2 separate regions of the Homo sapiens genome follow, and region 2 is linked to region 1. The links come from fine-mapping of genetic effects on gene expression. A gene starts in region 1. The other region holds a variant in brackets. All regions are shown on one strand. Distances are between the middles of the regions.

Evidence for each region. PIP is the estimated chance that this variant, and not a neighbour inherited with it, causes the effect.
Region 2: its variant is the best candidate, but not a certain one, in a credible set for the expression of QKI in whole blood (TOPMed, PIP 0.50).

The regions. Positions count from the first base shown.
Region 1 is chr6:163,411,305-163,416,668 of GRCh38, reverse strand. QKI (QKI, KH domain containing RNA binding) reads right to left here and starts at 1,951. Exons shown (of 8, transcript NM_006775.3): 1 at 1,334-1,951. The coding sequence starts at 1,475. It overlaps LOC124901234 (basic proline-rich protein-like), which reads right to left and starts at 5,088. Exons shown (of 4, transcript XM_047419614.1): 1 at 4,960-5,088; 2 at 2,584-4,055; 3 at 2,001-2,420; 4 at 1,493-1,704. The coding sequence starts at 3,463. The coding sequence ends at 1,493. It overlaps CAHM (colon adenocarcinoma hypermethylated), which reads left to right and starts at 2,719. Exons shown (of 1, transcript NR_037593.1): 1 at 2,719-3,604. RefSeq lists silencers at 933-1,122, 1,323-1,372, 1,623-2,442, 2,533-3,312 and enhancers at 1,393-2,046, 2,047-2,699.
Region 2 is chr6:163,354,175-163,359,538 of GRCh38, reverse strand. No RefSeq gene overlaps it. Among named protein-coding and RNA genes, the nearest start is that of DKFZp451B082, 9.8 kb to the right of the region's middle. The variant T/G (reference allele first, on the strand shown) is at 2,561.

The DNA of each region.
Region 1 (5,364 bases):
TTCAAGACAACAGAACTCCTGGGATTTTTCTTTAACCATTTTTTATCATGGAAACATTTCCGGCCTTTTGTTCTCTAGTGACATTCCAACTCCCCAAGCTTCAAACTCCTGTTCCCCGACTCTATTTTTAAAATCTCGAAATTCTTGCGAAAAATCTAAACTCCATTGTTCATCTCTTCAACCTGTAGTTTTCAGTTTCCTTTACACAGTCCTCCGGTGGTGCCTCTAAGCAGGAAAAAAAAACAAACAAACTCCTGGCCAGTCGATTTTCGAAACAGACTTTTTTTGTGGTCTTTTTTTTCTCTAGGCGTCCACAGAAACCCACAGCTACTAGAAATTAATACTTCAGGTACTGCTATGAGAACTTCTTAAGGAAATTCCAAAGTTGGTCAACATTAATCTTCTTGTCATTCTTCACTCCCCACAGCGCTCCATACAGCTTTTTGGAAACTTTGGCTCAATTTTATTTCGCCCTTTCCAAACGTCTCGAAACCCTGTCCTACAAACTCAGGCGGCTGCGTCCCCGGGAGCAAACCCTCCGCCCAAGTTCTTCTAACTCAGGCTGCGCTCCGATCTGTCATCGCGTTATTTCGCACTCCACCCCCCCCCCCCCCACCCCCGAAAAGTGAAGTTCAACTCCCTAACAGTTCTCGCTTCCCCAAACAAAAGGGAAAAAAGTGCTTTTCGCCGTCACTTAGTCCTCCTTGTCGGCTACGCCAGCATAATTTCGGTCTCCTACGGAATTTCTTTAAACTAACGAGCCCCACACTGACTTCCACTTAGTATTGAACAGCTGCACCAACTCCCCAACCACGAAACCCCGCTTTAGTCCTCACGGGAGGGGAGAGCTCCCGAACGCGGGGCGGTGGGGGTCCGCGCAGAGCAGGCTCGGGAGGCCGAGCGGAGGAGCGGGGCCCGCGCCGGGCACACGCGTCCTCCAGGCCGGCGGCGCGGCGTGGGCCTGCTCTCGGGAGGGCTCGGCGAGGACCACCGAGTCCGCGCAGCCCCCGCCGACCTCTCGGAAATGTGACCGCCGAAGCTAGAGGGGCCGCAGGGCTCACCCCGCAGCCCTCCGCAACGCGCCAACTTGGACGCCAGCGGCGCGGGGTCCCGGCCGGGCAGGGGGCGTCCGGCACCGGCGGGTCCACCCCGGCCCGCCCGCCCGCCGCAAGCCCGGCCCGGCACCTCCTTTGTGCGCCCTCCTGGCCTCCCAGTCCCCCCGGCGCTCGGTCCCGCCCGGCCGTGACCTTCCCGCCCTCCCCACCATCCCAAGCGGGGAAAGGGGCCGCCCCGGCGGGGGTCGGGCCGGGGCCGGGGCCCTGGAGACGCTCACCTTCGTCCAGCAGCCGCTCGAGGTGGTTGAAGATCCCGCAGAAGTTGGGCAGGCTGCTCATGAGCTTCTTGTCGTTCATCAGCTGCATCAGGTAATCTGGGGTGGGCTTCGGCTTCTCCTTCGTTTCCATTTCCCCGACCATATTCCAGGCTCCGCAGCTCACTCCGCCCGCCGCCGCCGCCGCCGCCGCCGGAGAGGAGGGAGGGGCGGGGGCGAGCCCCGGCCGCGGGCCGCTCGGGACCCGGCGTCCCGCTCCGCGCCGGCTCCCGCTCTGGCTCCCGCGCCGAGCCCCGGGGCGGCCGGCACCGCGCGCTCGCCCGCCCCCCGCAGGCACTTTCCGCCCGGGCCCGACGCGCTCCCAGCCGCCGCCGCTCTCGGCCGCCCGGCTCGGCGCGTCCCTCACGAGGCCGGCGGGCGGGCGGGAGGCGGGTCTCGGCTGGCCGAGTGCGGGCGCGGGGCGCGGGCTGCTGGCGCCGGACGAGGAGGAGCCGGGGCCGCCGCTCGCTCGGCTGGTCGAGCCCGCTCAGCGCCGCCGCCGCCTGTGCCGCGGGCTCGGGGGGTCTCTCTGGGCTGGTCCCCGCCGCGGCGCCTCTGCCGCTGCCGCCGCGCTCCGACTGCGCTCCTCCTCTTCCTCCTCCTCCTTCTCCTCCTCCTCCTCCTCACTCACTTGGCGGCGGAGTTCGCCTCAGTTCAGGCGGCGCTGCCAGCGGCGGCGGCAGCAGCGGCGGCGGCGGGGGGAGGGGCAGCGGCGCGGGGAGGGCCGGGGGCGGGCGGCGGGCGGGGCCGCGCAGGGCGGCCGTTAGCGGGTCCCGGCCGGCGCGCTCCCGCTGCCTGCTGCCCGCCGCCCCGCGACCGGGGCAGCCGCCGGCGCCGCGCCCCCTCCTCCCTGCCTCCCCGGCGGGGCGGGCGACGGGGGCAACGGGAGTGTGACGGACTGCGGCGCTCGGCGGGCCTGGGCGCAAGGACTGGGTCGCCGCCGTGCGGGGCGCCCGGGGCGGGTGGGTGTGGGCTGCGGGGCCGACGGCCGCGGGGGGGGCGCGGGGCTTTCCACGGCACGGGGCGGGTGGGGCTGCGGGCGCGGTCGGGGCTGGCGCGGCAGGCGAGAGGAATTCCAGCGGGACGCGCCAGCGCTGCCTCCGCCTCGCCTCCCGTTACTATAGTTTTTTCAGAACCTCTTATCCACCCCGCAGAAGAGAAATTTTTTTTTAACGTCCTGTTGCTTCACGGGGGACTTTCGGGGTGGGCATCACGTGGCCCGACACGTAGCCGTGGGGCTCCAGAGCGCGTGCGCGCGTCGAGCCCGGTCGCCACGCCCCTTCCGAGGGTCGCTCCGCCCCCGTCGGGCCCCGCGAGCGCGCGGTGGGGGAGGGGAGGGCCCCGGAGCGCGCCTGCGTGGGGCGGGGGCGGCAGCCGACTAGGGGCTGGGTCTGGCCGTTTAGGGCCGGGTCTTGGCCCGTCGCCCACGGTGCGGAGGGCTGGTGGGCTTTCCTTGGCCGTCGGGCCCGCCACGGCGCGGGTCTTGGCTGCGGGGCGGAGGTGGGGCGGGAGAGCCGAGGATAAGAGTTTGAGGCTTTTCGAGGCGCGTGCCGCGGCGTCCGCCTCTGCGGGACTCTGCGCCGGGCGCCCTCGGCCGGCGCGCCCGGCTCCCGCTTTGTCGCCGAGGGAAGCACGCGCGACGCCCCTCCCGTCGCCGCCGTGGCTTCTTTCGGTGTTCGTGATTTGCTGAGAGGCTGGAAAGCAGCACGGCGGAGAGGAGCCTTGCACTCGCCAGGCGGGAAGCCTGCGCGGACACGCGTGCGCACCCACGGGGCGGCGGGCGGGCGTGGGGGGTCCGGGCCACGCGGGCGACGCGCCTCTAGGGAAGCGATCTTGTTGCACCTTCCCGTTATTCTGAAAGCAAATCGTAGCCAGACCCGAGCGCAGCGGCTTAGCAAATAATAAGGGGAGCGTCAGTCGTGCTCGAAATGCTTCCTTCGCGATGGCGTCAGTGTTCCGTGAGGGAATGAAGCCGCAGTAGGAAATAAAGAGGCTGTGCGCGTAGTCTGAAAAGCAGAAGTCAACATTTTTACAGATGAAGAAAGAATACGGAGGCAAGAGGTCTTTCTCTGCAGTTTGGTGGATTTCCAACATTTAGACTTGTTTGGAAGAATTTCCTCAGCTGCACCAATGAAGTCCTTGATCTATAGAAGTCGGCAGTCCCTAAATCTACGTCTGCATTTTGTTGCAAATCCTTTATAACATTCCATTAAAATAATGCAGAGTTATTTAATATCCAGTTGGCCATCGTGAGAGTAATTCGCGGCTGAGATTTTGTTAATCATTCTGTCTTCTGACTTAACAGTGAACGTAGGTGATTTTTTTTGTAAAATGTTGCTTCACATGAATTGTGAGAATCACCTCTAAGTTTGAATTGTACTGAAGGCACTATAAGAATTTCAAATGAACGCTGAGTAGCCAGTAGCCTTCTGGCCTTTTCGTTTAACAAGCACAGAGTTCGTTTTTAAAATTAAGTTACTTTGACAGAGGAAATGTAATAGCCTTGGTAGACAACATTAAAAATGTAACTGTCAGATGTTTTAAAGTCTCCAACAGCCGTATCTGTTTTAGAGCCATAGAATATTTACTTACTGAATTGCCTGTTTAAAGATGAACTTTCTAAATGCAGGGAATAGTAACTTGCAAAAAAGCTATGGTCTCTAAGTAATGAAGGCTGTTTCAGTACCTAGAAAAATCAAAATCAAGGTTTTGATGCTGCTAGTGTAAAAGATGCAATCCCCTTCTTAATGGCCTGCTTATTTATTAAGCTCCTAGGCACTATGCTGAATGCCCTACATGCATATCTCGTTTAATCATCAGTACAACTTGGGCTTAGGTTAGACTGTTATCCCCATTTTACAAATAAGGGGAAACCCAAGAAAGATGAAGTTAAGTAACTTGCCCAAGAATATAGCTAGTGAGTCCTGTGTCTGGGATTATAATCCAATTATATTTTATTCTAAAGCTTTTTTTTTTTTTTTTGCTTTTTTTCCTTGCCCTATCCTTTAAATCAGGTTGAATTTTATGACAATATTCCACCATTTTTGACCCATAGAAATGGCAGTGTCATAAGGCTCAACCACTTAAACCAGATTAAAGAACAATGATAGGCAATTTTCATTTCCTATGTATTAAATCACTTACGGTTACAGCATTTGATAATAGCTACTGTGTGTTAATTTTCTTTTTTTTGAAACAGAATTTCGCTCTTGTCACCCAGGCTGGAGTGCAATGGCGCGATCTCGGCTCACTGCAACCTCTGCCTCCCCGGTTCAAGTGATTCTCCTGCCCCAGCCTCCCGAGCAGCTGGGATTACAGGCATGCGCCACCACGCCTAGCTAATTTTGTATTTTTAGTAGAGACGGGGGTTTCTCCATGTTGGTCAGGCTGGTCTCGAACTCCCGACCTCAGGTGATCCGCCCCCCTCAACCTCCCAAAGTGCTGGGATTACAGGCGTGAGCCACGTGCCTGGCAGGTTACCTTTTCAAATCTATGTAGATCACCTCATTTCCTGACAGTCCCTCAATGGTTTCTTATCTCAAAAAAAAAAAAAAAAAAAAGGAAAGAAAGAAAAAATCCGAAGAGCTTACCAAGTCCTGCAAGACGACAGGTGTGCCCCTGGTGCATCACTGACCTTATGTCCTTCTCCTCCCACAGCCCACTTGGCTGCACCCCCGTGGAATCCGTCTGGATCCTTAAATATTCCAAGCATGCTTACCCTCCCCAGGACTCTGCCCTTGGTGTTTGCTCTCCTCGGAAAGCTTTTCCCCATACATCGGCGACCCCTGCCCCTATTTATCTTTAGAAGGTGTCCCTTAACACCCTATGTAAAATGGCGCCTTTGTGCACGCAAACACTTCCTCCCTTCTTCCATCTGCTTACCCCAGGTTCTTTTCATACCATTTGTTTCCACGTAACAATGGGTCAACTCGTTTGCCACTGGCATCAACATTGTAAGCTCCATGAGAAAAAGGAGTTTCTTCTATTAGGAATTT
Region 2 (5,364 bases), 57 kb after region 1:
TTAGGCTGCTCTCGTGCACCCATCTTTTCTCTGTGTCTCTATTACCAGACTCCTGCCACCCCTGAAGCCTGGACTAATAACTTCTGGGCTATCTGAGAGTTTCTTTTGTCCCCAGGATTCAGCCCGTCTCTGACCCGCCGGTGAAGCGGCTTCCCGTCACCTGTTTCCATCTCCCATTCGCACAGCAGGTGATTCCACTTCCAGAACTTCCGAAGGTGACGCCCTCCCTCATCCTGTGTCCGCAGAACTTCCCTGGCCCTTGGACCATTTTCCTTGGAAGTCTCAATGTCTGTCATTTCCATTCAAATAAAACCTGCAGCTCTTGGCCCAGACCTCCACAGCTCTCCACTGGAGTCCCTTCCCACCTAAGGTGCAGATGAAGTCCAAGCTGGCTCTTCTGTCTTCTCCCCAAACTCGTCCTGTCACGGGGCACTTGCCACTCTTGCCTCTCAGCTTGCTTCATGCGAGATGTTCTGTTTGGCATTCCCTCCTTTCTCCTGGACACAAACTCACATCCCTCCCACTCTTCTTCACACTCCTTGAAGAGGCTTTTGATTCAAATTGTCTTGAGGCCTCCACATCACCCCAGCTATTTTAGCGACTCCTTGACATTTCTGAACAGCCATAAAGAATATGTTTCTTCTGTTTCTGTAATTCTTGTTTTCGGTACCTTATTTGAATGTAGGCTTTGTGGGTTCCGGCTCTGAGTCCTTTAACAACTTCTTATTTATACACAAGGAGTTCGGTAAAGTGTTAATTGAACAACTTTTCTTCTAAACACGAAGCTTGATGAAGTGTTACTTGACACAATGAGTGCCCAGTTAAAAATGTTAATTTTTCAGTTTGTTAAATGTGCGACCTTCACGGTGGACTGACTGAAAGTTGGTGCTGCCTGATCAGGATTTGATCTTTCTCTACAGTAGACAGTTTCAAACGCAGACCCTGCAGTGCCCCTGGAGCCATCTCTTCAGGACACCAGGACTCACACTGTCTGCGTGATCAGCACCCACGTGGCCTCCTCTCACCTGAGGGCCTGATCCACCAGCCTGAGATGCACCCAAGCCAACGTGAGCTAACTGTGCAAAGAGAGCCCCACAAGGCCCCATAGGAGAGGCCCTGCCGAACAAGCATGAAATAGAATATCGACATTGTGCCCTTGATCTGTGAGTTCCATAACACTATCAAAAAAGCCTTTAAGTTTTCAGAGCACAGTTTGTACTTGGTAAACCCAACCCACACTTCAAAGATATACCCTTCTCCAGATACAAGCTTTAAAAGAAGCTGTCTGGCCGGGCGCAGTGGTTCATGCCTGTAATCCCAGCACTTTGGGAGGCCGAGGTGGGCGGATCGCCTGAGGTCAGGAGTTCGAGACCAGCCAGGTCAACATGGTGAAACCTCGTCTTTACTAAAAATACAAAAATTAGTCGGGCATGGTGGCACGCACCTGTAATCCCAGCTACTCAGGAGGGTGGGGCAGGAGACTCGCTTGAACCTGGGAGGCAGAAGTTGCGGTGAGCAGAGATGGCGCCACTGCATTCCAGCCCGGGCGACAGAGCAAGACTGTGTCTCAAAAAAAGAAGCTGTCATGGTATTTCCTTTTCTTCTTCACGATTGGTCGCCACTCTTACCAAGCTCCCTCAAGCAATGTCTTTTCCTTTAATATACAGAAAGGCCATTCTCAGAATCTAGTACTTTTTCATTTATTTATTTATTTATTTATTTATTTATTTATTTATTTATTTATTTTTGAGACGGAGTCTCACTCCTGTTGCCCAGGCTGGAGTGCAGTGGCGCAATCTCGGCTCACTGCAACCTCCACCCCCCGGATTCAAGCGATTCTCCTGCCTCAGCCTCCCTAGTAGCTGGGATTACAGGCATGCGCCACCTCACCCAGCTAATTTTTGTATTTTCAGTGGAGGCGGGGTTTTTCCATGTTGGCCAGGCTTGTCTTGAACTCCTGACCTGAAGTTATCCACCCACCTCAGACTTCCAAAGGGCTGGGATTGCAGGCATGAGCCACCATGCCCAGCAGAATCTAGTACTTTTTCTCATTTCAGTATTGCCACTGTGTGTCCTGTACTAACATTCTCTGTTCCTCTCTGAATGTTCACATGAAAATGGCGTTTTTCAATCTCTGCATTGTGACCTGAGCCTGCTGCGCAGGAGGGCGGGATGGGGTGAGCGTGAGGAGCGGGATGCAGCCCCGCAGTCTTCACTGAGTGCTGCTGGGATGGCCCTGTGTTCTCTGTGTGTGACAGAGTGTGTTCGTGAGTGTCTGTGTGTGGGAGTGTTTACTGTGAGAGTGCATGAGTGTCTGTGTGTGTTTATGTGTGTGAGTGTATGAGGGTGTCTCTGTGTGTGTTTTTGTGTGTGTATGTCTGCGAGTGTGTGTTTATGTGTCTGTGCATGAGTGTCTCTGTGTGTATGTTTATGTGCGTGTGTTATGTTTTTATGTGTGTGTTTATGCGTGTTTATGTATATGTTAGTCTGTATGTGTGTGATGATGTCTGTGAATGTGTGATTGTGTGTATGTAGTTATGTATTTGTGTGTGTGTTAGTG[T/G]GTATATCTATGGTGTATGAATGTGATTTTGTGCGTGAGAGTGTGTATGTGTGTTTTTATGTGGTTTTGTGGGTGTGAGTGTGTATGTGTGTTTTTATGTGGTTTTGTGTGTGTGAGTGTGTGTGTGTGTGATTATGGGAGTGTGTGATGATGCATGCAAGTGTGTGATATGTAGGAGTGTGTGTTTATGTGTTTGCGTGTGCGCGTGTGTGTGTCTGTGTGTGTGTGAGCATGTGTTTCTGTGTGTGTGCACACAAGTGCTGTGTGTATGTAGAGAAACAGTTCCCAGCTGGCTCTACCCTAGAGGCCTGGGGAGGAGGGTGGCACCGGGCGGGGAGCAGGAGGGGGCGGGGCCAAGCAGGAGGGGGCGGGGCCAACCCGGAGGCGATTCTAAGTCTGCAGCTTCCGATCCAGTGCAGGCCCGCGGGGAACTCCTGCCTGTGTGCAACACTGTGGCCTTCCTTGGCAGCAAGTTTGTGAATCATACCCACATCTGTGCTTCACGTTTCTCCCTCCCATTTCAAGCATGGTCACTTAGCCCCTCCAGGAACCTCAACTTTCTAATCTGTATAAGGGCGACAAATTACAAATATGAATATTGAAGGACGTGGGAATGTGCCTGGAGGGGCCTTGTTGGTGTAAAGCACTTGAACGTCACAGAGTTTCTCTCCCCAGGGTCCAGCAGTGCCTATGACATTTTTAAACAATGCACGTGCCACATACATAGCTGCACAATACAGCGTGTTTCTACTTTTCTCTGAAACTGAAGGAATAAGAGGAGAAAGGAAAAGAATGCGGTGTTTAACTTTCTGCAAAGTCACAGGCTGTCTCCGCTGTTCACAAGCTGCTGTTTCGTGGGGAGTTGACCTTTCAGCTCCCTGGGTTATCCATGGCTTTGATCAATCTCTGGAAGTTCACTTATTGGCTTTAAATTGATCTATTGATTTAATAAAAGTCACATATCATCATCCCTGGTTCAGGACAAAGCACTCAATTTGTCTCCAGTTTGGCAAATATCATCAATAATAGATGTTTTGCTGATTCTGTTGGGTGACTAATTTCCATGGCATGCTCACAGGAAACTTGTTCCTGTCACAGTCCAGTCTCTCTGCACAGAACTTACAACCACGGCCTGTCGGCTGGATCCTGTCTGCTTAGATCCCTCATCACTCGGTCTGACTATCACCTGAGTCCCTTTTCTTAAGAATGACGAGGCCAGCTGCAACCCGTGATGGGAGAGGTGGGAGTAGGGGTTGGCGGAGTGGAATTGGGGTGCAGCTGCAGGCCTGCTCTCCCCAGTCTCCATTCCCTGCAGTCCCCAGTGGCTGGCTGAATAAGCCTCCCCCTGAGAGGCTGGCGGGGTTGCTGGGAAGCGGTGGAAATGAGGTCATCAGCAAGTGTGGATTCACTTCCTCTGGACTTTTGCAGCCAAGCAGGCAAAAAAAAAAAAAAAAAAAAAAAAAAGAAGAAGAAGAAGAAGAAGAAAAAGAAGAAGAAGAAAAAGAAGAAGAAGAAAAAGCTGAATGTCCAGCTGAAGGGCGTCTGAATGCTCTCCGTGATCTTCTTTCTTCTTGCTAACACAGCACAGCCTACACAGCCACACGCAGATGCGTGTGCAAACCAGTACTTCTGCACACATGAATGCCTGCACAGGCTTCCCTCAGTCTGTCCCCTACCCGGTCCTCCCACGCTGTTGGAGTGAGTGGCCAGGAGGCAGAATGCCAGCAGGTCTGGAGGAGTTATCAGCATTTGCTGTTTCTGAACATTTAGCCCCACATTTCAGAGTTTTGTCCACAGCTCCTGCCAGGGGCCGGCCAGGCTGGGAGCCTCCATGCCAACTCTGCATGTCCTTTGGGGAAATGAGAGTCAGCCTGCCGAAAATCGAAAAGGGAAATGAATCTAGCAAGCTGCATTCCTTTCTTCACCCCTTTATATACCACATGCCACCCCCGTTGGGCACCGTCTAGACCCTTTAGTGTCTCTGCTAATGAGTAGACAGTTTCTCCTGTGTCTGGCACATGTCTTCTGCAAACCACAGAGAGGAGATACACGGAGCAAGTGTCTGATCTTCCTCCTCTTCCCCCAGCATTGGGTAGCACCAGTTCAAAGAAAAGCACAGCATTTCCTTCATCATGACTTTGTGAGGGCAAGTACACCTCCTGGAGACACTTCCTCAAAAGTGACATCTCCATTCCTAAAACGCTGACCGACATTAATCCCACGTAAAGCTCTAGTGCCTTAGAAGAGATCATGTACCGACATCTCCTATTTTTTCCTTAAGGTTTTAGTCTTCTATGTGTAAAGGAAGACTACGTCTCTTAATAATTAATTATGATCGCTATTTAAAGCATTTGTAGCTATAATCAGAAACCTTAGCCTTGTCACCATTTTCCAAAGAGAGCTCCATTATTATACATTCTGATGCCCGCTAGTCTGAAAGAAGCTCAAGGAAAAAGGAATGCAATGTTTTGTCAGTCTTTATTTAAGCTCCATAACAAATTTTTACTCTGAAAAAAATTTGTTTAGTTATTGTATAGAGTTGCTGATATTCCTCAGATTCCTATGCAAATTGCATAAGATGGGCGAGGCCCGTTCTTACAGACACGTGCAGCCTTGGAGTGAAATACACAGGCTCTGTCATCAAGCTTGTGGCTGCTGCACTCAGTGAAGATTTCGGTTCATTTCTTGCCCCAGATCTTCTGACTCTTGCCGGGTTTCCAACTACAGGACAGAAGTGATCTCATTAGCACCCCGCATTCTTCATCCTCTTCCGGTTTCCTCACTCCTGACCCTGAAGAGCCCTG